Linked DNA regions of Homo sapiens. The protein of the gene in region 2 interacts with the protein of the main gene of each other region in a biochemical or structural test. Each region holds a gene or a part of one and is shown on either strand. Other genes may lie near its edges. The genes, in order: MKI67 and KIF15.

What was found.
Region 1: the proteins of KIF15 (region 2) and MKI67 form a complex in vitro, tested with the Homo sapiens proteins (one study listed by IntAct).

What each region holds. Positions count from the first base shown.
Region 1 is NC_000010.11:128,105,845-128,122,149, forward strand, and holds part of MKI67 (proliferation marker protein Ki-67), read right to left. Parts: intron 13,476-16,305; coding exon 13,409-13,475; intron 10,693-13,408; coding exon 10,647-10,692; intron 10,164-10,646; coding exon 9,084-10,163; intron 7,759-9,083; coding exon 7,583-7,758; intron 6,602-7,582; coding exon 6,289-6,601; intron 6,202-6,288; coding exon 6,083-6,201; intron 5,973-6,082; coding exon 5,801-5,972; intron 4,690-5,800; coding exon 4,534-4,689; exon of another isoform or gene 4,103-4,533; coding exon of another isoform or gene 4,009-4,102; intron 3,580-4,008; coding exon 1-3,579. UniProt on the Homo sapiens protein: Protein that associates with the surface of mitotic chromosomes and acts both as a chromosome repellent during early mitosis and chromosome attractant during late mitosis.
Region 2 is NC_000003.12:44,793,503-44,810,768, reverse strand, and holds part of KIF15 (kinesin-like protein KIF15), read right to left. Parts: intron 16,553-17,266; coding exon 16,343-16,552; intron 13,219-16,342; coding exon 13,093-13,218; intron 12,936-13,092; coding exon 12,813-12,935; intron 11,575-12,812; exon of another isoform or gene 11,481-11,574; coding exon of another isoform or gene 11,478-11,480; intron 10,456-11,477; coding exon 10,332-10,455; intron 9,320-10,331; coding exon 9,243-9,319; intron 9,005-9,242; coding exon 8,795-9,004; intron 7,956-8,794; coding exon 7,778-7,955; intron 5,743-7,777; coding exon 5,601-5,742; intron 4,925-5,600; coding exon 4,783-4,924; intron 2,953-4,782; coding exon of another isoform or gene 2,884-2,952; intron 1-2,883. UniProt on the Homo sapiens protein: Plus-end directed kinesin-like motor enzyme involved in mitotic spindle assembly.

The DNA.
Region 1 (16,305 bases), on a different chromosome or scaffold from region 2:
GTCGTTGCTTGGAGCTTGTTGGGGTTTTGACTGGGTCTGGTTGTGGAGATTTGCAGGATACTTCTGTGATTTTGTCATCGGTCATTGATTCCTCAGTGTGACCTGGTGTCTGGAAGAGCTCTTTGAAGCCAGCCAGATCTTCTAGAGCCTTGGCCTTTTCTTTAGGAGTTTGTGGCCGTCTCTTGCTGCCAGGTAAATTTCCTAGCAGGTCCAGTTTCTCCACTGGAGTCCCCACAAATGTGTTGATGTCTTTCTCTTCACCTACTGCTGCTTTAGGCGTGTGCATGGCTTTGCCTGCTGATGGTGTTAGTTTCCTGAATGCTAAAAATTCTTCCTCTACGTCTGCTTTCTTGAGGCTTCTCTTGGGCCGTTGCTTTGTGTTTGTTGGGGTGTCCGCTGGGTCTGATTGCGGAGATTTGCAGAGTATTTTTTTGGTAGTTTTCTCATCAGTCGTGGGGTTATCAGTGCATGGTGTCTGGAAAAGCTCTCTGAAGCCAGTCAGTTCTTCTAGAGCCTGGGCCTTTTCCTTACGAGTTTGTAGCCGTCTATTGCTGCCAGGTAAATTTCCTGGCTGGTCCAGTTTCTGCACTGGAGTTCCCAAAAACGTGTTGATGTCTTTCTCTTCACCTACTGCTGGTTTGGGTGTGTGCATGGCTTTGCCTGCTGATGGCGTTTGTTTCCTAAATGCTAAAAATTCTTCTTCAGTGTCTGCTTTCCTGAGACTTCTCTTGGGCTGTGGCTTGGAGCTTGTTGGGGTGTCCACTAGGTCTGGCTGTGAAGCTCTGTAGGATACTTTGGTAGTTTTTTCGTTAGTCATTGATTCCTTAGTGTGACTTGGTGTCTGGAAGAGCTCGATGAAGCCGGCCAGGTCTTCAGGGACTTCAGACTTTCCCTTAGGAGTTCTCAGCTGCCTCTTGCTGCCAGTTAGACTTGCTGCTGAGTCTAAGATCTGCTTTGGAGACTCCATAAATGCTTTCATGCTCTTACCATCTCCTGTTGGCTCTGTGTGTGTGTGTGTAGTCTCTCCTGATGTCTGTGTGAGCTTGCCAACTGCTAGGAGCTCTTCTTTCACGCCCACTTTCCCCAGGGATGTCTTGAGCCGTCGCTTGGAGCTTGCTGGGTTTTTGTCTGGGTCTGGTTGTGAAGATTTGCAGGCTACTTTGGCAGTTTTATCGTTAGTCATTGATTCCTCAGTGTGACCTCGTGTCTGGAAGAGCTCTTTAAAGCCAGCCAGGTCTTCTAGAGCCTGGGCCTTTTCCTTAGGAGTTTGTAGCCGTCTCTTGCTGCCAGTTAAGTTCTCTGTCAGGTCCAGTTTCTGCACTGGAGTTCCCATAAATGCGTAGATGTTTTTCTCACCACTTACTGCTGGTTTGGGTGTGTGCATGGCTTTGCCTGCTGATGGTGTTCGTTTCCTGAGTGCGAAGAATTCTTCTTCTACGTCCACTTTCCTGAGACTTCTCTTGGACTGTGGCTTGGAGCTTGTTGGTGTGTCCACTGGGTCTGGTTGTGATCTGCAGGCTATTTTGGTAGTTTTCTCGTGAGTCGTGGGCTTGTCAGTGCATACTGGTGTCTGGAAGAGCTCTTTCAAGCCAGCCAGGTCTTCTAGGGGTTGGGCCTTTTCCTTAGTTTTTGGGTGCCTCTTGCTACCAGTTACACTTGCTGCTGGGTCCAGTTTCTGTTTTGCAGTTTCCCTAAACGCGTTGATGCTTTTATCCTCACCTCCTGGTACTTTATCTGTGTGTGTGGTTTCCCCTGATGTCTGTGTGAGCTTCTTCAGGGCTGAGAGCTCCTTCTGTACGTCCCTTTTCTCCAAAGGTGTCTTGGGCTGCCTTCTTGTGCTTGTTGGGGTGTCTGCTGATTCTGGTGGAGAAGATTCGCAGGGCATTTTAGTAGTTTTGCCAGCAGCCACTGCTTCTTCAGTATGACCAGGGGTCTGGAAGAGCTCTTTAAAGCCAGTCAGGTCTTCCAGAGCCTGGGCCTCTTCCTTAGGAGTTTGTGGCCGTCTCTTGCTGCCGGTTAAGTTCTCTGTCAGGTCCAGTTTCTGCACTGGAGTTCCCACAAATATGATGATGTCTTTCTCTTCACCTACTGATGGTTTAGGCGTGTGCATGGCTTTGCCTGCTGATGGCATTAGATTCCTGCACGCTAAGAGTTCTCCCTCTACATCTGCTTTCCTGATACTTCTCTTGGGTCGTTGCTTTGTGCTTGTTGGGGTGTCCACTGGGTCTGACTGTGGAGAGTCGCAGGGTATTTTAGTGGTTTTACCAGCAGCCACTAATTCCTCGGTGTGACCAGGAGTCTGGAAGAGCTCTTTAAAGCCAGCCAGGTCTTCTAGAGCCTGGGCCTTTTCCTTAGGAGTCTGTAGCTGTCTTTTGCTGCCAGGTAAAGTTCCTGCCAGGTCCAGTTTCTGCACTGGAGTTCCCATAAATGCTTTAATGTCTTTCTCATCACCTCCTGCTGGTTTGGGCGTAAGCATGGCTTTCCCTGCTGATGGTGTTAGTTTCCTGAGTGCTAAGAATTCTTCCTCTACATCTGCTTTCCTGAGACTTCTCTTAGGCCATTGCTTTGTGCTTGTTGGAGTGTCCACTGATTCTGGTGGTGGAGATTTGCAGGCTATTTTGGTAGTTTTCTCATCAGTCATTGATTCCTCAGAGGGACCTGGTGTCTGGAAGAGCTCTTTGAAGCCAGCCAGGTCTTCTAGTGACTGGGCCTCTTCCTTAGGCGTTCTTGGCCACTTCTTCATTCCAGTTACACGGGCTGCTGGGTCCAGGATCTGCTTTGGAGACTCCTTAAACGTTCTGATGCTCTTGCCATCTCCTGCTGGCTCTCTGTGCGTGTGCGTGGTCTCCCCTGACGTCCGTGTGAACTTGCCGACTGCTAGGAGCTCTTCTTTCACACCTACTTTCCCCAGGGATGCCTTCAACTGTTGTTTTGTGTGTGTTGGGGTGTTTATTGGTTCTGGTTGTAATGACTGGCAGGGCATTTTAGTGATTTTGCCTTTCTCACTCTTTGGTGCCTTGGCATGATCTTGGGTTTGGAGGAGATTCTGGCCACGTGCCGTGTCTTTCATGAGTTCTGTATCAGGCAAGCTCTTGAGGTCTGTCAGGTCAGACATTGGTGCACATTTCTGCCCCCAAGTTCTTGATCTCTTCATTGCTTTCATCTTTTCATCGTTTTCTTTTAATTCAATATTTTCCTTATATGTCTCAAAAGGTCTTTCTATTTCCTTCATCTCTCCTTCTCTCCTTTGTTGTAGTAGTGTTGCCTTCTGACCTCTTTTTAGGATGCACTCAACAATTTCTGTATTTGTTTCTTCACTCTTACTTTCCACAGGTAGCTTCTGTATATTCCTGAACTCTGTAGACCTTCCTGACCTGTTTGCAGTGGATACTGTTTTTGAAGGCTCTGTCTCAGTATCTGAAGTTTTTGTCTCCAGAGAAGTCATTTTGTAGGTGTTCCTGGGCGTTTTTGCTACGTTTCCATTTTCTCTAATACACTGCCGTCTTAAGGGAGGGCTTGCAGAGCATTTATCAGATGGCTGTTTTGCTGCATTCTGTGCACTGAAGAACACATTTCCTCCTGAAATAAAAACATACACAATAAAAACATTCTATTAGTGTCTCATGTCAATCGAGTATTACAGCCTCATAAAATATGGTAAAAAACTAAATATTTAGCTTCGTATTCACTGAACGACATGAGGCTACTTATGTGTCTATAAATCTGTCTTATAAGAGCCATGCACAATTAAGAATAATGTTATTTGGTGCTATAGTGGGGTCATCATTAAGCAAAGTTAGATGCTGAAATGATCATAGAAGGTAAAAATACTGCTTCAGAAGGTTCCTCCAAAGGTTGCCATGCCCTGTGTCATTGACGTAAATATAGGCATTTTTTCCTTCAAACATTAGAAACAAACAGCTGTTTCTTGCCTTAAATCGCCAATAAAATAACATGGATTATCCTTATGTGGTTAGGGTCCATATTACACAGGAAATATTTACCTACCGCAAACATCTTCAGGGTAGCAAGCTGTTCCCTCTGTGACAGGAATACAGTGACCAGTGCCAAATGAGAGATTAGACAGATTCTCATCTCCCATCTCACACTTACCCCGGGCCTGCTCCCACCTAAAAGGTTAGCAGGAATAATTGCACAGTATACAAACTGTTATCTTTCTGTTTTGTAATTGGCAGTAATTTTGAATATGAGTAATTTATATGTAAATATGGTGAGACACCATTGTATTTTTTTGCTATGTCACCCTGGTTACTTACAATAAAGAAGCCAAAAGTGTACACAGGTCATTTACACACATTAACGGAGTCTTTCTTTCTATATAAGTCAATGAATGCCAATGTTAGTTCAACTGCTGATTGAAATCTCCCTTTCAATTAGAACAGAGAAGACGGAAATGGTATTTTGTGCCAGGAACATTTGTTTTAGAGAAGTAATATCATACTGCTTGTAAAAAAATAATACTGTATGTTCCTATCCCAAAACATCACAGTGTTAGGAAACAAGGAAACCAACCAAAACTCTCTGAGGTGGGGAGCAGAGGTTCTTCTCCTGAATCAGTTCCTTGAAACTGTTTTCCAAGCAAATTCTCTGAATTTGAAATAGCGATGTGACATGTGCTTGTCAACTGCGGTTGCTCCTTCACTGGGGTCTTGAACATTTCAGCTATTCCTGTTAAATGAAAATATTTGAAAAGTGATTGACATATTGCTAACATGCAGACAACCATCCCAGCCCTCACATGTAACGTGCAAATGGTGGGAAATAACAGTAGATTCCTCCCTTGAAATCCTGGTACATAGGCCTCATAAAAAGAGTGATTCCATTAATAATGTACTCATTTTGTAAAAAAGAGAGCACAGAGAAGATATGTTATGCTCTTCGCTTTGCTTTTCTTGGAAAGGAAACAAATGAAGTTAGCTGACCTCTGGGTCCTCCTAACAAGACCCCACACGTGAGCTCTGGAGCACGGAGGCTGGTGACGGGCTCCTGAGACCCATAGGCCTCCCTGCTAGGATCTAGAGGCCAAATGCCTTCATGCTTCTCAAAGTCTTGGGTGCTCAGTTCTAGATTTTAAGTACAAATAACACGTACCCACATTTTAGAAAATGACAAAGAGCTGCCCATTTTTAGTACTGTCAAGTAATAATATATATTTTTGAAAATCTAATATCATTATCATTCTGTTTGGAATGATAGGAGGCCTCAGCCTCCCAAAGTGTTGGGATTACAGGCGTGAGCCACTGCGCCGGCCATCCCCACTTTAAATTACACAAGTCAGGCCACAATTTACTGAGAGTGGGAATTGAATGGAAATATTTCTTCAACAATCGTTTATGGGAATCTTCTCATAGGGCTTTCTTTCAAGAAAGTTAAGCTACCTAGAAAGTCAATCCTGAAGAAGCAAAATGTTGCTCAACAACAACTGGCCCACACCTGGGATAAACTATTATTGTACCTGCAGATTAACAAGTTAACTCTCTTCACTGTAAAGCACCTTCCAGCTTTCTATGTATACGCTGCTCTCCAGGGTAAAGACATGCATTTGACATTTCCACACCTATTTCATGCAGGACATGTGATCCCAAAAATTAGCAGAGACTTGTCTTTGCAAGCCAAAACAGCTTTATCTTCCCTGAACACTAAGACCCCAGAAGGGTGATTGAGTCGTTTATTTTATAATCTCTTTCACAGCAGATAAACAAAGTTAGCAAAACAAACATTAACACAGTAAAAAACAGTAGAGTCAAAAGATTTATAAGATCTAAGACTACGTTTTTACCTGAAAGATCTTCCTTAAAGTCCATTTTTTGGTTGGAAATGAAGTTGTTGAGCACTCTGTAGGGTCGAGCAGGCACATGTACTTTTTCAGTATGAGCTTTCCCTATTATTATGGTACAAGGAGAGTTTGCGTGGCCTGTACTAAATTGACTGTGAACTTCGCCCACAGGCTTCTGTAGAAAACAGGAAGGAGGTAAACAGGACATTAAAGCATAAATCCACACTGAATGCAAGCTTCGATGACACCGGTATGTGTAAAGCAGCCATTCAGTGAGGCCCCTACCTTTGGAGTAGCAGGTCTTCTTTGCCTTTTGTTCATTGACCTTTGAGGACCATGTTTTATGACTTTAGTTTGTGTTTGTTTTGCACCAAGTTTTACTACATCTGCCCATGATTTTGCAACTGTCAAAGGGAAAAGACGAAACTTTTCAAAAATTAGCATTCATGAAAAAATTCACCTTAATATATGTATTCTAATGTCAGACTAACCAATCAGATTTGCTTCCGAAGCACCACTTCTTCTTTTGGAACATATCATCTGTAAAATATCATGTTGACTTCGGCTGATAGACACTCTCTTTGAAGGCAGGTTGCCACTCTTTCTCCCTCCTCTCTTAGGAACCTCTGTCTGAGATTTGCTGCTGGAAGCAGGGGCTGTTTTGCAGGACCTACGGCGTTGATCACTGGCAACTGGAGTTTTCCTAGGACTAGGAGCTGGAGGGCTTATAACCAAGCTTTGTGCCTTCACTTCCACATGGATTTCTGAACCTGACTCTTGTTTTCCTGATGGTTGAGGCTGTTCCTGACAAGACAAAATTGTTTACAAGAAGCCTTAACAAGGATCTAACATCTCTGGAATGACTGATAAAAACCTATTCAGTTAAGAATTTCAGCTGTTTAAATCTTGAAGCATCAAATGCTTAAGCCACTGTCTTTGAAGACTATGGTAGAGGTGAGACTGTCTCAGTCATTTAAGGAAAAGGAAAGAGAAGCAAGCCAAGTCTGAAGTGAGGTCATTTCAGGTAAAAAGGTGGAAGGAACATCCTGATCAGTGAAAGACAAGCAGGGTCTGATCTCAGTCCCAGTAAATACCAGCTGTGAGCACCCAGCCCCCGGCAGTCCACATGGAGGGAGGACTGCTTGCCCCTGGGAGCCAGTGTAAAATGGAAAGGGAGCCAGACATCACTTTCCACTCCTGCTGGGAAGAGAAGGAAAGAAAGACCGCCCAGGCCCTATTACAAAGGTTATGAGCTATAGGGCCATGACTTCCCAGAGGTGTGAAACCCAGGAAGGACAACACAGCAAAGGAACAGGCAAGCAAATATTCTAAAGAGCTGAAGGTGTAAAAGGAAGATGTGCCATTGATTTTCCTTCACACCAGGTAAATGCCTTAACTATAGCCTTGTAACTCTAAAAGAAAATAAAACAATCCTTATGGGTCGACGTGGTAATGTATCCAGAATCTTTGTAATTGGCTATTCTGACGGTGCCTGCAGGTGATTACGCAGTGCTGTAAGCGTGGGTGTCTGGGAACTTCTGCACGAAAAGGACAACATCAAGGACTCCCCCGACTCGGTCGCATCAGCACCACGGTCAGGGACCCAGGGGCTCCTTTGCTGGTGCCCACATCAATGAGCTTTCATTCGTCTTTTTAAAAACTTGTTTCTTTAATAAATAAATAAAGGTCTTCATCATAATTCTACTTGTGTCAGTATTTGGAAAGGAATAGGTACCCGGTGTGTGAGCCACTGGGCGTGAATGGGATGCTGCTTGTTCAACTCACCTTGATGATTTTCTTCAGGACAGGTGGAGTGTGCATTACCAGAGACTTTCTTTTGGTTGGGGCTTCTCCCCTTTTGAGAGGCGTATTAGGAGGCAAGTTTTCATCAAATAGTTCAGGTCTTAGGTGCCCACCAAAGGACACACGCCTTCTTTTCAAAGGTATTCCCTCACTCTCATCTAAAGTAACGGATACAAATGTGGAAAGAGCAATGAAAAAACATACCAAGACTAGTGATTTATTTCACGTTAGCATTAAAGACAAACCAAGTGAAAAGTCATCGAAACACAGTACCTACAGCACGCCTCTATTCTTGCAATCCTGGTGAAGCTAAGCTACTAAGAGTTCCTAAAGGATTGCGGGAGTGGCCACTAAGACGTCAAGTTGCCACTGGACAGTACAGAGGCTTTCTTTAAAACATTGAAACATTATGTGTGGACATAGAAAGGAGGAGTCTGCAGCAGCAGATTTCACCTTAGAGTAGGGGGACGACAGCCAGAGAACTCTCTAAAGACATGCACTTGGGTCTCAGCCTGAGCCACCCAGTGACCAGAATGCATGAGCTGTAAAAACTCCTCCAGGTGGTTCTGAGTCAATTCACAGGAGCCCAGTCCCGGCCACACATTTTCCTGAGCCACCAGTTAATGTAAATCCCTTGCCTAAGTGATGCTTCCCCACTAGGAAGCTTGGTGGAATACTGAGACTGATGTTACAAACCTTATTTTATCGACAGCCTCATGCCCCACCGCTATAGGCCACCTGCAGAAACACAGCCTGGAGTACGAATACTGCGTCTGTGGCCCAGACAACTTTTCTTCTAATAGCCAGTCCCTAGGAGTGTAGGAAGCTCCCGAGGAGCTACCACACCTGCTATAAAGGTCCTACCTCTGCCACTTCCTGACTGGCCTTGGGTTGTGCGTTTCCTCATGTGTGACATAGCTCTAAAAAGACAACCTAGCCACGGGCACTGCTATTGCACCAAGGATCAAGTGTTCATGTGGCATATGGACTCATGGGTACAGTCCAGTGTTTACAGCAAATTGTTTGTAGGACACTCTGAAAACAGAGTATCAACACCTGAGAACTACCGCTATGTTTAATGATTACCAGTGATTTATTCCACATGACCAAACTCATATGATACAGTTGATTGTAGTTCAGAATTAAACTCCATGTGAAAAGCAATTATGATTATTCTCTTTTCTATTTTGTGATAGATGGAGGAGAATCAAATATTTTTGGGGCCACCCTATCTCCTTCAATAACCCCTGCTTCATGATTGCCTGACAACTTCCATCTCTTCTGTCATTCCTTGTTACAATTACCTAGGCCTTCAGTATTCATCTATTAGCGAAAACAGCGTGCGTGTCTGTCTTATCCCTGTGCCTTATGTGCTTACATTCTCTTCCACAAAGCTAATCACTACTGAAAGAATGAAGGTCTCACAGCTACATAGAAGGTGTTCATCTTTTAGAAAAATAAATTTACAATTAAATAAACTTACTAATGGAATCACCAAAGTTGTTGATATCAACTGAACTAAGACCAGGTAACCCAGAGCACATCTGTCCAGCTGTAGTGCCCAATTTCTCAGGCTTGCTGAGGGAATCCTTTTGGATCTTCCTCTCAACTTGAGTGAGCCACAGAGTTAAAAATGGCTCATTGTGAATTTCAGTTTCCGTAGGCAGAACTTCCACATCTGTAGGAATACTTCCTCTGGTTTTGGAAGAGAGATTTTCTGGCTTAGTGGCAGAGTCAGCTGCATCTTCAACTTTAGCTGGTGTTCGATTTCTAGTTGAAAGCTTCCTGGGAGTAAGAGTTTTATCACCAGCCTTGAAGCCTTCACTTTTACCCAGATTCACAGATTCTCTTCTACCAGTAGTATACAGGTCTTTGTTCTTATGTTTTTGTGGAGAATTTTGTTGCTGTGAATATTGTACAGGGGTCTTCATTTTAGCCGGCTCATAGAGAGGAAAGCTGGCGCCCACAGCCTTGCTGGGAGTCTGAACAGACTCCACGTCTCTTCCCTTCCCCTTGTTCTGGTCAAGCTCTTGTTCAGGTGAAGCAGGCTCTGCCACAGCGTGGCCGCTCCCACCAGATTTTGGTCTTGACTTACGCGAGACCAACAGTTGGGTCTCCCCCTGTAAACCATCAGCACTTTCTTTCTCTGTTGCGTAATCAGTTTGTAATCCAGATTTTCTACAATACTGTAGGACATTTTCTTTTTGTGATTTTACATCCAACTCTTTCTTCACTGACTCATAAAGCTTCCAAAAGGGAGATTCATTTTTTTTGCTATTGTCAAGACATTGTGTAGTGGGAACAGACTTCAATTCTCCATAACGGCTCACTAATTTAACGCTGGAAATTTCTTTAAAATCCCCAGAAATGGGATCAGCTGCATTTCTGCCATTACGTCCAGCATGTTCTGAGGAATGAACATTAGTTGTTCCCTGAGCAACACTGTCTTTTGAGTCATCTGCGGTACTGTCTTCTTTGACATTCTTGATATGTACCTGAGGATTTCCTGAAACTTTTCCTTCAGTGATTTTTGAATAGGCCTTGGAATCTTGAGCTTTCTCATCTTGGCAATGAATTATGAAATAAGAAACAGAAGTTCAGCATTTTCTCAATGATTAACATTTGTGGAATTCAATATTTTAATTGTTTCAGGTTGTCTTATAAGCTAGCTTTTACTTGGCCTACAAATTATTTAATGCCTAAAACTTGCAAGTCTTATGATACTAGTATTATGATACAAATATATAAATCATATCAGCTCCAATAACCAGTATGAAATAGCACATGCTATCTAACTACTGAGAACTGAGTTGACAGCTGAACAGGCAATTTTCTCATATCTAGAGTCTCTCCTAAGCATAGCATACCATCAGTCACCAAGGGAAAGTTAGGCATCTGTCTGTCGTTGACATGTTAAATGACACCTCCTCCATTTCTGACAGGCTAGACATTTAGCACTTGCATTCTTGTTGCCCCTTCTTTGCCAATATGCTTCGCAAAGACCTGATCTTTCAGGATTCTGGAACAAAACCCAACCACTACTCACCAGGGTCAGAAGAGAAGCTAGATCTTGAGACACGACGTGCTGGCTCCTGTAAGTTGGGAAAATAAGAACAGTTATTTGCAGGTCTTTCTAAATGATGACAGTCACAACAGTGAAAATATTATTTATTGTTTTCTGGCTGGGCATGATGGCTCATGCCTGTAATCCCAGCACTTTGGGAGGCCAAGGTGGGCGGATCACTTGAGGTCAGGAGTTTGAGAACAGCCTGGCCAACATGATGTAACCTCATCTCTACTGCAAATACAAACATTAGCTGGATGTGGTGGCAGGTGCCTGTAGTCCCAGCTACTCAGGTGGCCGAGGCAGGAGAATTGCTGGAACCCGGGAGGCAGAGGTTGCAGTGAGCAGAGATTGCACCACTGCACTCTAGCCTGGGCAATAAAGCGAGACTCTGTCTCAAAAAATAAAAATAAAAACAATAAAAAATTGTTTTCTTTACCAAACCACTCGTATATGACTTTTAAAGACTGTTTGAGAAATGAGCTCAAGTCAGTTGGGAGCTAGTGGTCAGGATAAAAGTACTTATTAGCTGACTCATTAAAAAATAGTGAGTGATTAATAGGAAACAAATTCGAGGCTTAAAATTACTAAAATCAAACCTCGGTGTGTTTTTATAACTTCCTTTAAAGATATTTCCCAACATCCTATTGCGGAAGAACCAAAGTCAATATTAAACATCACCTATACTGAAGATCTGTAACCCCCCACGAGCTCAGAACTACTGACTGCGTCATCAGTTTTCTCATAAATGGGCCATAGGACCTGTCGATGAACTGAGGCTCCACTTGGCATGTGCGCCCTCTTGGCTGGTGGATACTTAGGGTGGATCTGAGAGCCTAGATTCACCCTAGGTAAATTCATGGTACAGGCACACATGGTATATTCACAGATTCTGCAACCTCACAGCCTGGGAGCAGGCGCAGCGCCCCCACCTGGCTCCCCAGAGACAGCGCCCTAACTTTCCTTCATATGGAATTATTTCCGGAAGGGTGGAAGAACTAAAGAATAACATATATATATAACTTTTATAAAAGTCTGATGCCCCAAAGGAAGAAAAGCTTATCATCTGGATTATTAAGAAAATATCTAAAAAATATTAACAAAGGCAAAGAATCTAACTTCCTTAATCAATTTTAGGTTTCTTGATACGTAACACCTTGCTTCTAAAACTATCTATGTGAGGGATGGTTTTTTATTTCCAATCTGAAGTGGAACAAGAATCTTATGACTAAACAATATAAATGAACCACTAATAAAATTATGAATATGTAAAGTATATAATCTCACTTTTGTTGTACGATTACATTCAATAGCCACAAAATTGCTGTCGAATTGCTGTCATATTTACTACATACTCCATTTCAGTACTCACTATATCACAGACCAGTAACAGAACAAACAGTTCCTAGACTGCTGAGTGGCACATATCTAACCCACAGTTCAACTGGCTTTTTGGTTTATTTACTCCCATAGACTAGCAAGTTGCCTGGTGGCTACAGTGTGGGATGCCTCAGAAACTGGCTTCCAGCACGGGAACTGATGACCATCAGATTCAACATTAAGGCTGCTCCTCTAGGGAAGAAGGCAGTACTTAAATGGCAGAAATGGACTGGGCATGGTGGCTCAAGCCTGTAATCCCAGCACTTTGGGAGGCCCAGGTGGGTGGATCACGAGGTTAGGAGTTCAAGACCAGCCTGGTCAATATGGTGAAACCCTGTCTCTACTAAAAATACAAAAATTAGCCAGGCATGGTGGTGTGCACCTGTAGTCCCAGCTACTCGGGAGGCTGAGGCAGGAGAATTGCTTGAACCCAGGAGGCGGAGGTTGCAGTGAGCCAAGATCGCACCACTGCACTCCAGCCTGGGTGACGGAGTGAGACTCCGTCTCAGAAAAAAAAAAAAAAAAAAAGGCAGAAATGTTGAAATTCAAGAGTACCTACTGCTAATTTCAGGTGCACCTAAGATAACTCTCCTAAGCCAAGATATTCCAAGGAGCTCATCTGAAACTAGCTTTAGGAGCACTCTAAAATGTAGGAAAAATATGAATTCTCAGGGCTCATCCTAAGCCTAAATCCCACTAAATTTCCAAGCACATGCCGACAACTGTGTTTTAATAAGCTGTACAACTAAAATACCTCTTCCACACTGATATACTCAAACTATCTAAATTGCGAAGCACGTGTCGACAATTATGTTTTCATAAGCTGTACAATTGGAATACCTGTTCCACACTGATACACTCAAACTATAGGATTCTCTCACAAGACAAAGCACAGGATCCCTTTTCCTGTTTCATGGGTCGTCTATCTATCAAAATAGAGAAGCATCTTTGGCACTCATGATTTTCATAATGTGATTATTTCAGACACATAAAGACGGATGAGTACAATGACTGGGCGACAAAATGAGCCACCAGATAATGCAATTCCCAAATGTTAGCTCTACGTGTTGGGGTTATCCTAATCATGGGTTTGCAAAAAGCTCGCAACATGCTCTAATAGACTTTTTGGCTAAAAGTGTAAGACCAACTTAGTGCTCTGATTTTGAACAATAAAGAGGAAATATCATTTTAGATTATTTTAATACGTCTAAGTTCAACTCGTTTTTATACTTTAGTTACATTTTCCTACTATAACAGTAACCACCCTCTTTGTAACTGATTTCAAGTAAGAAATCATTAAAGCATACATAAATGATTTCATATCATCGAAACGAATCAGCCCAAACTTGGATATTTTCTATCACCTGTTCACGTATTTTTCTTGGAAATTCAGTTGACTTCCTTCCATTCTGAAGACTTTCATTTTCATACCTGCAGTTTATAGAACGACAAAGATCCTGATTAAAAATTTATACCCTGGGGCGGAAGTCTCCATATCCACTTAATGTCCAAGGATCAACGAACAAACTTTGGGTTTAGTTCAAGACATCACCTTATACAAAGAAATAAATTTAGAGTTAGAAAAGTGCTTTTACACTAAAAACTAGGATTAGTTGCATCGAGTTTGTTTTGAAATACCACTGTCAGAGGCTGGGGACCCAGATTAACTTCTGATCACTGACGAACAGCCCAGGTATGATTTGACAATATTACCAAGCACCTTCTATGACATAAGCTAATGCACATGAGAGCAAAGTCAAGTTTCTTCTAGTTTAAGTCCATGGAAATCATCGGATGGCTTGGAAGGCCAGCCAGGAAGCCTGTAGGTAACTGAATCTTTCTCACGTTGTGAAGTTACATACTTCAGGGTAAATAAAAAGCTACACTTACACTACAGGGTAACTACAAACCTATATTTTAGAACACTATGATCACTTCAGTTTCCCACACATTCAGTCTGTATCTGAACAAGACAGGTACATCTTAAGAAGATCACCTTTAGCAAGATACATAATTGTCCTGGCAAACCTCAGTGATCAAGTCATAGAAGCAATCCTTTATTTTGCATAATGAAAACTTTTGGCCTCAGTGAAATGACCTGATTTGAATTTATAGGCAACCTAAGTAAGATCTGAAGCAGTCACACATCTGATATTATTTCTCATGGTAGAGAGTTTGGAATCAAGTCTCTCTTTCTAAGATTCACTTTCAAATCTTTGTTGGATGTCTTTAATCATCTGAATTTATCTCAATTTGGATAATATCTTGTTTTGAAAAATAGTTCAGCCCTCCAATAAACATCAAAAGCTTCCTACCTATAGGCCGGGCGCAGTGGCTCATGCCTGTAATCTCAGCATTTTGGGAGGCTGAAGCAGGTGGATCACTTGAGACCAAGAGTTCAAGACCAGCCTGGCCATCATGGTGAAACGCCGTCTCTACTAAAAATTGCAAAAATTAGCCGGGTGTTGTGGCGCGTGCCTGTAATCCCAGCTACTTGGTAGGCTGAGGCATGAGAATCACTTGAACCCGGGAGGCGGAGGTTGCAGTGAGCCAAGATCACACCACTGCACTCCAGCCTGGGTGACAGAGCAAGACTCTGTCTCAAAAACAAACAAACAAACAAACAAAAAGAAAAAGAAAAAAAGAAAAACTTCCTACATAGAAGTCTGTATTCAATAAAAATACTCTTTAAAAATGAAGGCAAACTTCCCAGAAGCACAGTAAAAGAAATGACTAGGGAATTTAAGTGGTGCATTAAAAAACAGCTAATACAAATGAAGACAATAACAGAGATTCATTTAGCAGAATGGATTTTTAAATGACCCAACTAATACGTTGTCTACAAGAGACGCAATTTTGATTCAAAGACACAATCTTTTAAAATAAAAGCATGGGAAAAGATATACCATGCAAACAGCAAGCAGAGGGGAACTGGAGTACTGTACTAACATGAGACAAAATCATCTCAGACAAAAGTTATTCATAGAGAAAAAGGACATTTTATATAAGGATCAATCCAGCAAGAAGATATTCCAGTTAAACACAAGAGGTCACCTGACAACAGGTTCCAAGAGACAACTTAAACCATAACAATTATGAAAAGTTAAAATTAAGGGGGTGGAAAAGTTATACTACACAAGCACTCATCAAAAGGAAATTAGTTTAACCATACTCATCATCCAAAGGAAACATTAAGCAGAAAAGAAAGCACTACTAAAAACAGAGGACATCTCTAAATGACAGAGTTCCATGCACCAAGACATCATTCTAAGTTTGTACACCATAGTACAGCCTCAAAATATACAAAGCAAAAACTGATAGAGATAAAAACAAATCAATCAATCAATCCTCAGTAGGTGATTTGAACATATCTCTTAGAATAATAGTAGGGGAAAATTTACTAAGATTATAGATTTGAATCTAACGGGAGTGTGTGTATCTGTATATGTGTATATATATTACATATTATATATGTATATATTATATATTATATAATATAAATATATTGTATATATATTGTATATGTATTATATATACCATATAGTATATACTGTATACAGTATATACTATATGGTATATATAATATATATTATTATATTATATATTACTATATAACATATAGTATATACTATATAATATTATATATTATATTATAATTATATATGATTATATATAATATATTATAATTATATATTATATAAGTGATATATATAATAATTATATATTACATATATATGAGACACTGTAGAATACAGTTTTCAATTACACAAGGCAGATTAGTAAGATAATTAGCCATATCTGCTCATAAAGCAAACCTTGACACATTTCAAAGACTAGACATTAGTCAAATGTCCATCAAGAATGAATGAATTCTGTATAGTTATGTATATTATTGTATATATTAAACATTTTTTTTTCAGTGAAATACTTATGCCATGAGAAGGAACAAACTACAGAGATGTCCAACATGCTATGAATCTCACACACAGAAAAGCACAAGCCAGGCACAAATGTATACATTCTTGTATCACTGTTAAGGACTTTTATAAGAACAGACAAAACTATCGTGTTCAGAGATCCATGCTTAGGTAGTGAAACTCGAGACGTTTATGATATCCTAAAAGCCAAAACGGTGGTTTACTTGCTGAGGGAATGAAGTAGTGATTAGACAACAGCATTTTTAAAAAGCTTCTGGAAATGTTCTATATGAGCTGAGGATGTATTAGTCTGCTAGGGCCACCATAATAAAGTCCCACAGACT
Region 2 (17,266 bases):
GATAAAATTGAAATACTATTCATGAAAAGAAAGGAAAAAGTACCCTTGAGACACAGTACAAAAATGCCCAAGTGGAAATAAATTTATCAATTCAATGCAGTCCCAAGCAAAATTCTAATACAATTTTTAAAAATAAACTTAATGAGCTGATATCTATTTTCATACAAAGAATAAATGTACAAGAAGAGACAAGACAATTAAAAAGAACAAGCCAGGCATGGTGGTTCATGGCTATAATCCCAACACCGTGGGAGGCTGAGAAGGGGAGGATCACTTGAGGCCAGGAGTCCAAGACCAGGCTGGGCAACATAGTGAGATCCTGTCTCTACCAAAAAAAAAAATCATTTTAATTAGCTGGGCATGGTGTCCCAGGCCTGTAGTCCCAGCTACTTGGGAAGCTGAGGCAGGAGGATCCCCAGAGCCCAGGTGTTCTAGGTTGCAGTGAGCTATTATCACACCATTGCACTCCAGCCTGAGTGACAGACTGAGACCCTGTCTCTCAAAAAAATAAAAATAAAAAGAACAAATTAGGAAGACTTCCCCATCTGATATAAAAATACATAGGGGTATGGGAGTATGGTCATTAAAATAGTACATTACATTACAGTACATTATATTAAAACAGTACATTAGCTTATGTACATTCAAATAGAACACTGGGAGGAAATACAAAGTCCAGAAATAGAATTATTATTATTTTTTGAGACACAGTCTTGTTCTGTTGCCCAGGCTGGAGTGCAGTGGTGTAATCTTGGCTCACCACAACCTCTGCCTCCCAGGTTCAAGCAATTCTCCTGCCTCAGCCTCCCAAGTAGCTGGGACTACAGGCACACACCACCATGCCTGGTTAATTTTTGTAGTTTTAGTAGAGATGGGGTTTCACCATGTTGGCCAGGCTGGTCTCCAACTCCTGGCCTCAAGTGATCTGCCCGCTTTGGCCTCCCAAAGTGCTAGAATTACAGGCGTGAGACACCACACCCCGCCCAGAAATAGAATAATCTTTCTGTGGAAATTTTAGGTATCAGGAGTAGTTGAGACCAAAGGTGCACACCACCATGCTTGGCTAATTTAAATTTTTTTTTTTTTTGCAGAGGTAGGGTCTTACTATGTTGCCCAAGCTGGTCTTGAACTCCTAGATTCAAGCAATCCTCCTGCTTCTGCCTCCCCAAGTGTTAAGATTACAGGTGTGAGCCACTATGCCTAGCTGTATTACTTTTTTTAAGTTAAATCCCTTTCTCATACCATTCAAAAGAAAAACAGTGGATACACAAACACCTCAATGTAAAGCAAAATTAAAGGCAAAAAAGTCATAAAGATAAAAGGTCAATAAACCTGGCTACATCAAAAATATAAAACTTCTATATAACAAAAGCATCACATGCAAAGATGAAAGACAAGCAACATGATGGAGGAATATATTGGCAGTACACCTAACAAACAAATGCTTATTACATAAAAACAAAATCTGAAGAAAAATATAAAAAAACAATAGTTTTTCTTTTCAGGGAATAGGATATACAAATGGACATGAACATATGAAAAGATATTTGAAATTAGAGAAATGAGAATTAAAACCTTAACAACAAGATCTCATTTTTTACCCATCAGATGGTCAAACATTAACAAGCATGACAATCCCAGTTCCTGCGGACAGTGCTGGGAAAGGAGTGCATCTATGCATCTATGCTGCGGGAACAGGGCACTAGGAGGGAGCTTCAGCTTGACTCACTCAAATGCTAAGACATCCTAAAATGACCACTTCTCCTTTAACGGAATCCACCCCCAGAGAATGCACGCACTGGAAACCATCTACTTAAGCCATAGAAACCTAGGGTTAAAATGAGGTAGGTACCAGTTAATATGGAAAGATCCAAGGCATATCCCCCAAGGGGATATCCCTCATGGTGCTTCAAGCTCTATAATTCAAGCTCTATAATTCTTCTGTCCCTCAAAGGAGATGCCTTGGATCTTTCCACATTAACTGGTATGAGGCTCATAACCCTTGAGCCTCACGTTAACTGGTATGAGGCTCATATTCCTTGAGCCTCACATCCAAATGAGGCTCTAGGTACCAGTTAATGTGGAAAGATCTAAGGCATATCCCTGAGTTAACAAAAGCATATTGTGGAATAACACATGAAGAATGACCGTTTTTTTTTAAAAAAAAAAAAAAAAGCAAAACAATACACAATCTAGGAAACAACTCTATGTGTTTTCTCAGTCTGTATATATTAACAGTACAAAAATGCTAAGAAAAAGGATTAAACTACCTCCAGGGATTGTGGGGACAAAGGATTATATTAGATCCAGATTGGAAGTGATGCTGAAAAGGAATTTTAACTTTAACTTGAAATATGTGTCTTTCTTTTAAACAAAGAGAATGTATTCATATAGTAGTTGTCCAACTAAAACAACAACAAAGACTCTGAATTGCTATGCCCCTCCTGGCAAACCTAATCCTCTGAGTCCTGTTTGCTCAGTCATAAAAGGAAGAAGTAGGACGAGAATGCCGTGGTGCTTCAAGCTCTATAATTCCATTGTGCTAAGGGGCTACAGACACAGAATTATAAAACATTTGGCAGTATTCTGCAAGTATTTTTCAATAATTTCTTACAAAAACTTCAAAGACCACCTTTTTTAAAAAGCAACAGTAAAAAAAAATTCTGGTCAGGCATGGTGGCTCACACCTGTAATCCTAGTGCTCTGGGAGGCTGAGGCTCCAGGAGGATCACTTGAAGCCAGGAGTTCAAGGCTGCAGTGAGCCATGATCATGCCACTGCACTCCAGCCTGAGTGACAGAGCAAGACTCTGTCTCTAAAAAACAAAACCAAAAATAAATAAATAAAATAAATCAAAATTTAAAAATAATTTTTAAATTTCTACCTGTATAGGAAAAAACCCAGCATTTTCCAGGTTGAATAAATCATTATATATCCACATAACATTCTTGAGCTGCTGCCAAAACAAATAAAAAATCAAAACAGAAACAAAAAGGGGGAGAACATTTTTTCCCCTGCAGACATGGGACAAACTCTAAAATATTGCTTTAAAACACACACACACACACACACACCCTCAAGCTGTAGAATGATGTGTATGTTATGCCACCATTTGTGTAAAGTGAGAAAATACTTGGTGACATTGATTGACTTGGTGACACTGATTGCCTCCAGTTCTTGGTTGGCTGGAAGAACAACAGAAGGAAAGAGATTTGCTACTAAATGCCTTTGAAAATTTCAGTCACAGGCTGGGCGCGGTGGCTCACACCTATAATCCCAGCACTTTGGGAGGCGAGACGGGCGGATCACCTGAGGTCAGGAGTTCGAGACTAGCCTGGCCAACATGGTGAAACCTCGTCTCTACTAAAAATACAAAAATCAGCTGGGTGTTGGGGCAGGCGCCTGGAATCCCAACTACTCGGGAGGCAGAGGCAGGAGAATCGCTTGAACCCAGGAAGCAGAGGTTGCAGTGAGCCAAGATCGTGCCACTGCACTCCAACCTGGGCAACAAGAGCAAAACTCCGTCTCAAAAAAAAAAGAAAAGAAAGGAAATTTCAGTCACATAAATTACCTATTCAAATGAATACAAGTAGTCTTCCATTAAGTGACACAAAAAGCACCACTACTAAAAATAATCATTATAAATAAACATCTATTTATATTCTAAGACATATAAGGAAAGGTTTTCGGTCTTCTCTATTTCTTTCTTTTATTGAAAAGAACTTGAGGCCAGCGCAGTGGCTCTTGCCTGTAATCCTAGCACTTTGGGAGGCCGAGGCAGGCAGATCACGAGGTCATGAGTTCGAGACCAGCCTGGCCAACATGGCGAAACCCCATCTCTACTGAAAATACAAAAATTATCCGGGCATGGTGGCAGGCGCCTGTAATCCCAGCTACTCGGGAGGCTGAGGCAGGAGAATCGCTTGAACCTGGGAGGCGGAGGTTGCAGTGAGCTGAGATTGCACCACTGCACTCCAGCCTGGCCGACAGAGCAAGACTCTGTCTTAAAAAAAAGAAAAGAAAAGAAAAGAACTTGAATTCAAGCTGGACTTGAATTCCTGGGCTCAAGCAATCCTCTTGCCTCAACCTCCCAAACAGCCGGGACTACAGGCCTGCACCACCACACCCAGCTAAGGAAAAAATTTTTTAACCTTCAAAAAATTGGATACAAAAGCTGAAATCAGTATCACCTCCTCAACCTTTTGTTTTCCTTGTGTACTTCCTTTCTCTCTCCTCATTCTCAGTTGTTCACACATTTTTTTTTCTTTTATGAGGGATGTGGTTATTTAGGACAAAACCCTCTCATGTTATTTCCAGTGGCACCTGTGATCCCTTAGCGGTCTTTGCCCATTAGGGTTTCTATTCTACTGAAAACTTTGAGGACATGTTATATTGTAGTAATAGCTGCCATTTTACTGATATCTACAAGGTACCAGGCAGCTTATCTATCTCATTTAGTACTCTAAAACTCTGCAAGTAAATTACCTTCATTTCCAATTTAGAGAAAAGAAAGATAAGGCTCAGAAGTTAGGAAACCCTGACTAAAGTTAATGGCACATTCGAATTTGATTGCAAATGCTGAATTCTTTCCTACCCCACCCTACCACTGGGGGGATACATCAGTGGGATTGCTAGCAGTAACCCAAAGACCAGTGTGACACCGGTGTTAATTACCTGCATGGGATGTCATCTGCATCTGGAGATAGACCATGCAGACTCTCTCCATTATTAATAAAATGACATTGCACTGATTTAAGGTGGAGGTATTGTTCAGATGACCTACCTTAAGTGTTTCAGCATGAATTTTATTCAGCTGAGAAACTTCTTGCCGCTTGCAGGCTTTTGTTGCTTCCAAAAGGTTTTCAAGATTAAGGTTCGCTTTTTGCAAAGACTGAAGCTCTGATTCCAATTCTAGCTGCCTTTTCCTAATAGATATTGTAAAACGGAGTATTTCAGGTAATAAGTAATGTCAAACATTTATAGAATACTTTACAGTTTATGCTCTCACATAACTTTATAGTTATCTCTAAATCAGAGATATTCTCTATTCTCTCAGATTATTCCCATCATTCTCCAGTTCAGTAAACTACAGCTCAGAGACTGTTTAAGGGATTCAACTAGTAAATGGTAGGGCTCAAATTCAAAAGCCCAAACAAATAGTCCATGATTATACCATATGTGATATGTCATTTTTGAACCAAACATTTGTTTATATTTTAGGGTAAGATTGATCTTAGTTATAATATGAATGTGATTTATCTTTGTTTTTACATAGTGAGAATCAAGTAGGAATATTAACAAACCTATACTTCCTAAAAGTCTTAACAACTCTGATTATCAAATTTAAATTTAAATAATTTACTATGCAAGTTCAATAGACTCTCAACAGGAAAAAACTGCTTAAAACACCTGTATTACCTAGTTCATTGAATATATTAGTAAAGAGCTAGAAGCATGCTCTTTCTCTTCATGTCAAAGTAGTTGCTGCTATGAGAGTTTAATATTTAAAGTAAAATGCCCAATTGAATTATCGATATTAACACTACAGCAAATGAACACTGAAAGAAAATAAGTGTGCATGCATGTGTATTTAGACTTTACCTAGTAAGTTCTTTGAATTCTTCATATTCTTGCTTTGAATTATTCAGCTCTGTCTGAATTTGCAGGAGTTGTGCTTTTAACTTCTCAGTGTTTGCAAACAAACATGGCTCTTTCTGAGCTTTAGGTGAAAATCCTTGCTGATCTGTTAATAAGAAAACAATCTCAGTCTTTTTTTTTTTTTTTCTGAGACAGGGCCTCACTATGTTGCCCAGGCTAGAGTGCAGTGGCTATTCACAAGCATGATCATAGTGTACTAAAGCCCCAAATTCTGGTCTCAAGTGAACCCCCTGCTTTAGCCTCCCAAATAGTTGGGACTACAGGTGCATGCCACCATGCCTAGCTTTACAACTTCAGTGTTTGACAAGCAAAAATAACAGGACACATTTTCTAAGTTCTCTGTCAGGTATCAATTTTGGGCCACAAGGAGGAAAAGTGAGAAATGGGTTGGAAAGCGAGCCCTAAAATACAAAAGCTTATAACTCAGCAGAAGGCACAGGATGTGACACAGTGTGCCAAAGGGGATTAGAAGTCATGTTTAAGAAGCAGATGCCACAGGATGGAGAAGTGTAGTTAAGGCAACACCTTTCCCATTAGGAGAAAGAACAAACAATGACGAAAGTGTGGCACGCCTAATGCTAGACAGAGAAACAGCAGCCAGTGAATCTTGTAGGAATTAGTGCTAGCAGCTAATGTTAACAGCCAAGGAATTATTTAGAAAAGGAAACAAATAGCAAGGGCAGCAGGTTGTAAGAACCCGGTATCATCTATCAGGTAGAAAATATTAATTTTCAGGAAATGCCTAGAACACTGAATATGTTGAAGAGAGTCCACTGAGTTTCAGTGTGGGAAAAGATCATGTAAAAGTTGTTTAGAGAATGATCAATGTTTAGAAACTGATGAGATCCAGACATTAGTATCTTCTGAAGGGAGTAAGTCAAGGTATTATGGAGGCCACAACAAAATGGCCAACAAAATAAAGGGCACTGTAGGGAAAAGTAGTTTAAATAAAACAGAAAACCTAAGTCAGGCGTTGGGGCTCACATCTGTAATCCCAGCACTTTGGGAGGCCGAAGTGGGTGGATCATTTGAAGCCAGAAGTTCAAGACCAGCCTGGCCAACATGGTGAAACCCCATCTCTACCAAAAATACAAAAATTGGCTCGGTGTGGTGGTGTGTGACTGTAATCCCAGGAGGGAGCCTGAGGCAGGAGAATTGCTTGAATCCAGGAGGTGGAGGTTGCAGTGAGCCGAGATCGCACCACTGCACTACAGCCTGGGTGACAGAGTGAGACTCCATCTCAAAAAAAACAACAGAAAACCTGATAGTAATTTTGCATCTAATATCTTAAGTCTCTCCCCAACCCAGTTACTGTGACTCTTATTATTCTATTCAGTCATAACAGAATGGAAGAAGGCTTAAAAAATGAAATTTTAAAAAGCAAAGAGACAGTCTTCTTTATGAATGCAGAATAAAAACATTAGAACTTTTTCAATTTCAACCTAAAAGGAAACCAAGGCCAAGTCTATGATAAAAGACCGTGAAAATATTAACTCTAAGACTGGGGCAAACACAGACTTTGTTACCAAATCCCAGGGTATGAACACCAACAGCTGTCAAGACTGTAAGGCAGATTTAGTATTAACTAAACCACTTTTCACATAGTATGCAAACTTATGAAAGTAGTATGTAACTAGAGACTGCATACATTGGTAACCACAATACCAGGACCCAAACACAACATCAGGACCCAAACACTGTGCTATGAGTCTGACCTTTCTATATCTCTTATACTGCACAGGACTAATTAGATTGATAAACATTTCAACTCTATTTTTATTCACGTTTGATTAGTTAAAGACTTTTCATTTCAAATACTTTAAACAGGAAAATTTAGTAAAAATTTAACATAGTATCTGAATCAATCTTTTTATCAATAAAACAAATACAATGAGTATTTTCTCGTTATATCTATTAGCTTACGTAGTTTATGCTCTGTGATTTTTGAGAAAAAGAAAAGTTTAGTAAATACCTTTCTATAATATAAAAGAATATGTGTATAAGACATTAGCATAGCAGGCCTGGAGGCTAAAATGAAGACCCTAGTCACAAGGCACTAAAAATGCTCTTTAAAACAGCCCCTTCCTACATGGCACGTATATACAACAATCATTTCTTACTTTTGTCACTTTTCTCCATGCCACTTATTTCAGAGAAAGCTTTTTCTAGTTTTGCAATGGTCTGGGCATCCATTTCTTGAGCTCTTTTCACAGGCTCTAATAATCTCAGTCTTCTATTCTCCTCCCTGAGGGAATGATTTTCCATAGCATACTTTGCAACTCTGGGGTGGTGCTCTATCTGTGACATAGAAGAATTACACGCATTATATATTTACAAACATTTCCTTAGTGAATTAGTTCCTCTAAAAAGCCATTAGAAAACTAGGTATGCACATGCACTACTGGTGGTACCCTTCTGCAACCACCATGGAAAGCAACTTGGCATTTGTGATCAGTTTGAAAATATGCATGTCCTGTAACTCTCCTATTCTCAGTTGGAGTCTAGACCCTTGAAATGTTCACCCACCTAAGGAGGTAAGCACAAGGGTGTACATTGTGGCAGGCTTTTCATGCAAAGGAGACTAGTTAAATCAACACACTGAAAAGAACAAGGACCAAATTAATCTTGTCAACCAAGATTAACTGAAAAAGGCGAAGTGCAAAAAAGTGTACAGGAGAAACAAAAGTACAAATATCCACCCATATTAGTTTGAATATTCATTAAAAACTCCAGAGAGATAAACAAGAAGCTGATAAGAGATTTTGGGTTTTCCCACAATGTACCTGTATGACCTATCCATTCTCCCTAAGGAAAAGGAAAAACAACAAAAACGTTAAAAGGCACAACCCTAAAGAGCCTACTGACTCAGATAACCACAACTGCCCACTGGGTGAAATTCTGCGTGGCCTGCTAGAGTAGCATACTATGTAGCAATGTCACCACAACTTCTTCCTTCTCCCCTTCTCTTCCCTTTAACTATTTTAAAAAGACAGGTAAAGGAATTATGCAATCACACTGTCAGAAGAATTCACTTAAAACAATTTCCATTGTATTAAAGAACAAGTACTTGCTGACAAACTTAGATTTGCTTTGAACTTCTTTTATTTTTAGAAATATTATAGATGCCGTATACTCACTTGTTCTCGCAGAGTTTGAATCTCATTCCTTAATTCTGAGAGCAAACGATCCTGCTCCTCAGGCAGAAAACCTCCCCGGGATTCCTTGTGGAGCTTTTCCAAGCGTATTATTTGATCCTCTCGGAATTTCACAATCATTTTATTAGATTGAATAAATTTTTCCTTTTTGAGGGTGAGGTCTTCTAATTGGGTAACTTTTTCTATCAGAGACTTAAAGAAATTCATAATTTGGTTAAACATGAAAAATAATTTGACTTCCCTAAATTTTCGTAAGTCCAGCAACAAATACTAATTTCATATTTAATCTTAAAGGCAAAATTTGATTTTTCATAGCCTTCCATTACTTTATTGACTTGGTATTATTTATTTCACTTAGTAAGGCAATAAAAACCACACAGCAAAAAACTAACTATCTTGAATCTCCTTTATTACTAATTCCATTTCCTACCTTCTTTTCCTGTTCAGATTTCTTAAAGAATAACATTGCTTCCTGGAAATACTCCATATAGTTAGTCTTCTTTTTGTCTGTAATTGATCCAATAAGAAAGGGAAGATGAAAAAAAATATTTATCACATTGCAAAACCAAGAGAACAGATAGCCTTTAATTGATTGCTCTCAACTAATCTAAAAGAATGAGACTGTGGCCGGGCACAGTGGCTCATGCCTGTAATCCCAGCACTTTAGGAGGCTGAAGCAGACGGATATCTTTCTTGAGGTCAGCAGTTCGAGACCAGCCTGGCCAACATGGTGAGACCCCCCCCTCCCGCCGCCCCCGATCTCTACTAAAAATACAAAAAAATTAGCTGGGCATGGTGGCGTGGGTCTGTAGTCACAGCTACTCAGGAGGCTGAGGCAGGAGAATCGCTTGAACCCAGGAGGTAGAGGTTGCAGTGAGCTGAGATCACACTGCTTCACTCCAGCCTGGGTGACAAAGAGAGACTGCGTCTCAAAAAAAAAAAAAACAATGAGACCGTCATCACTAGATCACGGATTTCAAATTAACCATTCCACATATTAGTCGTTCTTCAAAGAATAAGTTTCTCTTTATTTAGTTAATATGCACAATAGATTACACATGGTGTAACAGAAGTAGAAGTAGATTTTTTAAAAAATTAGAGGAGTCCCAGGGTGCTGTGCACCTCTTAAGATCTGTTAATAATTCACCCTCTTGCCTTTATGGATTTCCAGTTAATTAATTCTCTACTAGCTATTCTTTGAAGAAAAATAAGTCTCTCTTATCCTATAGTAAACATATATAGATTACATATGCTACGTAGAAGTAGATCTAAATGAAATTAATCTCTTTTTAGCACTTATACATTATTCAAAATTATTTTAATTCCCCCTTCTCACTGCCTATGGTATCTGTATCTGATTATAAACAAACCACTATGTTCCTATATAGGAGAAATAAGCAGAAAGAGATACCTGCAGAAAAATTTGGGTTGCCTTATTGTGTTGTGTCTATCACCAAGGGCTCTTAAACTATTATTTGTACAGTCTTCCCCAAGATAAAGGACTGTGTGCTCATCCTACCTCTGGTCAGGAAGCTTTCTGGTGGTGTCTGTCCTGAAGCAAGCTCCGCCAGTTGTTCTTTGAGCCTCTTCACTTCAGCTTGGAGCTGGCTCACATTTCCTTGGGTGTCTTCATTTACTACTGCCTGTTCAGGAATTTTTTAAAAAGCATTAAAATAATGCTTTTTGAGTAGTATAGTCCTGTGTTTACATTTGTTTGGTATGATTTGTAGTGATGAACATCAAACAAAACTTCAAGACCACATCATAGTCAAAAGGACACAGGAATCACAGTGTGCTCAAGTGGGGAGGAAGCTTCCTTTTCTTGTGCCTTCAGACCTGGAGCCAGAGAGAGACAGCCCCAGCCAGGCTCTCTGCCCCCCAGCTGACTAGCCCTGAGCTTTTAGGCTGGGTCACCCTTAGGATCCGGGTGTGTTCACCTAATACTTCTTTCCCTGAGAACGACAGCCTTCCCCCACCCTCCCAATGGAGAAGAGCCAATACCTCAGTGAGTATCATTTCCCTTCTTTCCTAGCTCCCTACGGGGAAGGAGCCTAGCCTCTAAGTGCATGATGACTTGCAGGGTGGGCTTGAGCTTGGCAGAAGCAACCTTCTCCAGAGGAATCCGACCTTTATTTTTTAACAGCCCTCTTGGAAGGAGGGGTTGGTTTGACACTTCCTTTTTTTTTTTTTTTTTAATTTTTTACCACACTAAATGATTATCTTCATTTTCTTAAAGAAATGTCTTATTTAGGACAACTTCTAAAAGGCTAAAGGACTCACAAACAAAATGTGCCACTGTGGGGCAGGATGTCAAGAGTGGGGCAGGTCACACATGTGCGCCACTGCACTCCAGCCTGTTGACAGAGCGAGACTCTATCTCAAAAAAAAAAAAAAAGTTGATTAATTAAAAAAATAAAGCTTTAAAAAGGTCCACAAAGCCTAAAGGGTGATAACGAGTGCCAACAGCTGAGTACCAACCAGGTCAGAGGACTCAGTTGTGAAATACTCAGTACTCCAGCAAGGAAAAAACACCCTGTGACAGCCCCAAGGTCTTCTGTATTCTCGCTGTAAGCCCAATTTGCTCACGGAAAAATTTAAATAGCACATCCTTAAACAAGTCCCAGATACTCTGGCACTTTCCACTGATAGGCTGCAAAGGGCTTACCATTGAGAGTGACTAGTAGAAGGCTCTTGGTTTTGTTCTTTTGTGTGTTAAGCAGCCATTTCCAGTTGCTTCTGATTCTTATGGCCAGCCTCATTACAAGGTACTACTGCACTTCTGACATCACTGTCCCATCAGTGACTTCATAATTCTAATTATTGCTGCAGTTCTATATCTCCAAAGACTTCTAGTAAATCTTAAGAGACTTAGGGTCAGGAAGCTCTAATGATTTTTCCTCCTCATCTTACTAGTACTCCATAGTCCAAGGAAATAAAATAAATGACTAGATCTATAGTCTTCTGATTTACCCAGGGAAAGGGGCAACATGGACCTCCTGATTTACAGCCAGTTGGTCTGAAAGCACAGATAGGACAAGCTGGGGCTTGCAATTGGCATCAGAAGTTGGGCGCAGTCTTGTAGGACTGAGCCCTGAACCTGTGAGATCTCACCCTATCTCCAGACATAAAGTGTCAGGATGGAACTGAATCAGAAGACACTCAGCTGATGTCTGCTGCAGAACTGATTGATTGGCTGTTGGCAGGAAGAAAGACTCACATACTTAATTTGCTTTCCCTTAAGAAAAAATTTGTCAGCTGGGTACAGTGGTTCACACCTGTAATCCCAGCACTTTGAAAGGATGAGGCAGGAGGACTGCTTGAACCTAGGAGTTTGAGACGAGCCTGGGCAACAAAGTGAGATCCTACCTGTACAAAAAATAAAAAAATTAAGGCCAAGGCAGACGGATCACGAGGTCAGGAGATCGAGATCATCCTGGCTAACACGGTGAAATCCCGTCTCTACTAAAAAATACAAAAAATTAGCCGGGCGTGGTGGTGGGCGCCTGTAGTCCCAGCTGAGCAGAGATCGCACCACTGCACTCTAGCCTGGGTGACAGAGCAAGACTCTGTCTCAAAAAAATAAATAAATAAAAAATAAATAAAATAAAAATTAAAAAAATAAAAAAATTAGCCTGGCATGGTGCTGCATGCCTGTAGTTCCAGCTACACAGGAGGCTGAGGCAGGAGGATCGCTTGAGCCCAGGAAGTTGAGGCTAGAGTGAGCTGTGTTTGCACCACTGCACTCCAGCCTGGGTGACACAGCAAGACTGTGTCTCAAAAAAAAAGAAAAAACTAGTCAAGCAATAACAACCATAAGATCTAACCTAGGTCTCTAATTACATGTGTGATATAGAAGGGTAGGAAAGATAAAATAGAAATTTTGCATACAATGAGAAATAAATAAAAGTTAATGTTAATATTAGGGCAATCACAAAAATGGCATACTGTAAGCTTTAGTATTTTTCTCATTTATTTAATGAAGTATACGCCAGTATTTTACCTTGTTTTTAATCAGCTTGGCTCTTTGAGCAAAGTTAAGTGTTGATAGGGTTTCCCCAAAACACCTGGATCCAGGATGAACATTTGCAATTATGGCTGTTTTGGCATTACCTCCAAGGGAATCCTGTTTAATGATAGGAATGAACATATTTTCGGTGAGAAATCACAAGACCTTTTTAAGCAAAGAAAATGTATACTCTTGCCACCAAGGCTGAGAGACTGTCCCACTATCAACTTTAGCATAACCAAAAGGAGCCCAGGAACCCAAGGATCTACTTTACCCGTAGTAAGAAGGTAAGTTTGGAGTCTCTGTAGCAAACATGTCTCTGTTTTCCATTACCCACGTCGACAAGTGCTGTAATCACTTGGCCCAGGCAGCTCAATGATCGATTTATGTTACCTGCTTCCTAAAGTGTTGACGGAAAAGAACAAAAATTTAGGTACGTTGGTTACTCTTTGGTATTTTGAATGAAAATATATCTAGCAGAGGAAAATTCTGGATGAAAAGGCAAGTCAGGGACAATGTTAATAAAGAACAACTATTCAACAAATAAAAAAGAAGTGCTGAACTATCCCTAACCTTTTCCTATTTGATGTACACTGTAATTTTAGTATTAGAAGACAAACACAGGCTGGCACTGTGGCTCATGCTAGTCATCCCAGCACTTTGGGAGGCCGAGGTGGGCAGGTTGCTTGAGCTCAGGAGTTGGATACCAGCCTGGGCAACATGGCAAAACCCCATCTCTACAAAGAAATACAAAAAACTGCTGGGCATGGTGGCACATGCCTGTAGTCCCAGCTACTTGGGAGGCTGAGGTGGGAGGATCACTTGAGCTTGGGAGGTGGAGGTTGCAGTGAGCTGAGATTGTGCCATTGCACTACAACCTGGGTGACAGAGTGAGACCCTCTCTCAAAAACAACAACAAAAAAAGACAAACACAAAAATCATGCAAAGAAAAAAAATATTAATGTCACTTCATGATTGTAATAGTTTGAAACCGAGCTATAAAGACCAGAAAAAAATAGGGAAAAAAAAGCTAGAGTAGTGCATTAATAGGTACTTTTTTCAATCCTTTTATGCTAAAATATTTAAGGGTATAATGCCTAATAACTCACCCATACAGCCCCCAAAGCCACTGATGAACTTATTTGAGGAGAATATTCAGTTTAATTCTGTAAAGGATAATAAAAACTACTTTAAAACAGAAGCTTGGTGGGGGGAAAAAATGAGCTAAATACGTTACATTAGATTTTTACTGTAGGTAGCATATTTTGAAAACTGGGTCTGCAGTGGAAGGAGTATACAAAAAAGAGAAAAAGTCAAAATTATAATGCAAGATGTACTGAATTCAGAGTCACTGCTGTTATCATTCAGTAAATCAGAAAGGTGGTTAGTGGCATGGTTGAGAGTACTGTAGCAGCTCGGTTTGAATCTCAGCTCTACCTTTATTAGCTGTGTGACTTCGGTTTCTTTAACTGTAAAATAGAAAGAATAGCACCTACTTCCCAGAGTTGTTGGGAAGGTTAAATGAATTAATATATGTAAAGCATTTTAGAACAGACTTGGTATATGTCCTATTATAAGCATATGCTTTTTTTGACACAGAGTCTCACTCTGTCACCCAGGTTGGAGCACAGTGGCACAATCACAGCTCACTGCAATCTCGACCTCCTGGGTTCGAGGGATCCTCCCACCTCAGCCTCCCAGGTGCTAGGATTACAGGCATAAGCCACCATGCTCAACCCATATGCTATATTTATTAAGCCTCATATCTCAATAGAAATATGAGCTTTAGGCTGGGCGTGGTGGCTAACGCCTGTAATCCCAACACTTTGGGAGGCCAAGGAGGGTGGATCACCTGAGGTCAGGAGTTCAAGACCAGCCTGGCCAAAATGGTGAAACCCCATCTCTATTAAAAATACAAAATATTAGCTGGGTGTGGTGGTGGGCGCCTGTAATCTCAGCTACTTGGGAGGCTGAGGCAGAAGAACTGCTTGAACCAGAGAGGCAGAGGTTGCAGTAAGCCGAGATCATGCCACTGCACTCCAGCTGGGTGACAGAGTGAGACTGTCTCAAAACAAAAAAATATGAGCTTCAGATTGCCTGAAACTGCCTCAAATGTAGGTCAGGCGACTCAAATCCTCACTTTTAATGAAAAAAGTAGATCTCTTCCCTCATCCTTTCCAATTCCTCTCCCCTTGCCCATGTATATTCTAAACTATAGACTCTACAAATATTTTATTGACAATTCGTATTACTATATATATATATATATAAACACATATTGACAATACATATTACATAGAACCTCTGGTCCCACTGTTGATACCTTAGCCTAGGACTAGATACTTAACCCTTCATACCTGAAATATTAAACAGCGTAAGTGGTCATCTTTTTCTGTGGGCTCTCCCTTCTAAAATCTTAACAGCAGTGGGTCAGATGACTAAGTTTCTATAAAACAGGCTTTCTTCATGAATCACTTAGTTGCTAAGAAATGTTAAGTGTTTCCCAGTATTCGCAGAGTTGATACAAACTTGGCCTGGCACTCCTGGTCCTTGATAATCCGGGCCTGCTTGCCTCTCTAACCAACCCATCCATTGAGCCATGCTGAAATGCCAAATGCTACACTCATTCTGCATCCACAATAACCCTTGAGATGCCCCCCTGCCAGGCATGCATTTCCTGTTTCTCTCTCCCTACCGAAATCCTTCACAAGTCAAGAACTACTTCTTTTCCACATGTTCCACAAGCAGTCCATATTGCACCCTTCTTCCTCTGACCCCTGTTGTCTCTTGTACCCTTATCCCCTCTGGTATGAATTAAAACATTTTTGCTACTGACAGACTTGCCCTATCCCATCTATGTTCACTGTTCCACAAAAGAAATCTCTGTTCCTTTTCAATAGGAACAATTTCTTATTTCTTTGCCACCCTCAAAACACTTAGCTTGGTATGGTCATATATCAGTTAACAACACGGATACATTTTTTTTTCTGAGACAGAGTCTCTCTCTGTCACCCAGACTGGCGTGCAGTGGCGCGATCTCAGCTCACTGCAACCTCGGCCTCCCAGGTTCAAGTGATTCTCCTGCCTCAGTCTCCCAAGTAGCTGGGACTACAGGCGCGCATCACCACGCCCAGCTGACTTTTGTATTTTTTTAGTAGAGACGGGATTTCACCACGTTGGCCAGGATGGTCTCGATCTCCTGACCTCGTGATCTACCTGCCTCAGCTTCCCAAAGTGCTGGGATTACAGGTGTGAGCCACCGCGCCCGGCTAACAGGGGTACATTTTAAGAAATGTGCTGTTAGGAAATTTGATTGTTTTGTGGGCATCATAGAATATACTTATGCAAACCGAGATGGTATAGCCTACAACATACCTAAGCCATGTGGTATAGCTATTATACTCTTAAGGGACCCCCATCATAAATGCAGTTCCTCATTGACTGAGACACTGTCATGCATCACGACTGTATTGACTGCTAGTAAGAACTCACACACAAGTTGAAGACCATAATTTCATTCTTACCTTCAATCTCATCCCTTCTGCATGGGTATCTTTTTGCCTTTCAGATCCTGCTAAATCCACCAGGTTGAGTAGGGAGGTCCGTATATTCACAATCTCATTACTTTTCTCCATTGACTCTATTGTAATTGTAAAGACGGCATGAGACCTAGACGATTCTCTGTTCATTGATGTTGATGCCACACGTCTATTCCTCCATCCTCCAGACAACACCTATGCAAAAGGAAAACATATTAAAAGAAATGAGAGGACCAGTTACAGTGGCTTATGCCTGTAATCCTAGCAGTTTGGGAGGCCATGTCTGGAGGATCACTTGTGGATAGGAATTCAAGACCAGCCTGACCTACATAGTGTGAGACCTCACCTCTACAAAAAATAATAATTTGCTATGTACAGTGGCAGGAACCTGTAGTCCTAGCTACTCGGGAGGCTGAGGTGGGAAGATCTCTTGAGCCCAGGAATTCAAGGCTGCAGTGAGCCATGATTGTGCCACTGCACTCCAGCCTGAGCAGCAGGGCAAGATCCTATCTTAAAAAAAAAAAAAAAAGGAAAAGAGAAAAAAAAAGGAACAAGAATAGGTACACTTAAAATGTAAAATAAGCACTTGAGAATCACTCATTTTATTATGAAAAATACTAACATACAGCTAATTATCTACTTTCATAGGGAAAAAGAAATATATTTACATAAAGCATATTTTCTATTTAGAACAGGGGTGAGGAGTATCTATTGCCTTCCATTGTTATCTAGCTTTATAAGATAAATTATATTATCCCAAGTTCCAAATGGTACACAACAGCCACCAAAATCAGTAGGAAATTTGTAAAGGGTGGTGAGAAAGATTACTGGTCCATTAAGGAATAAGCTGAAGTTATTTTCCTTTCCTTTGTGTTCCCTTTCCACATTACAGAAACAGAACAAACAGGA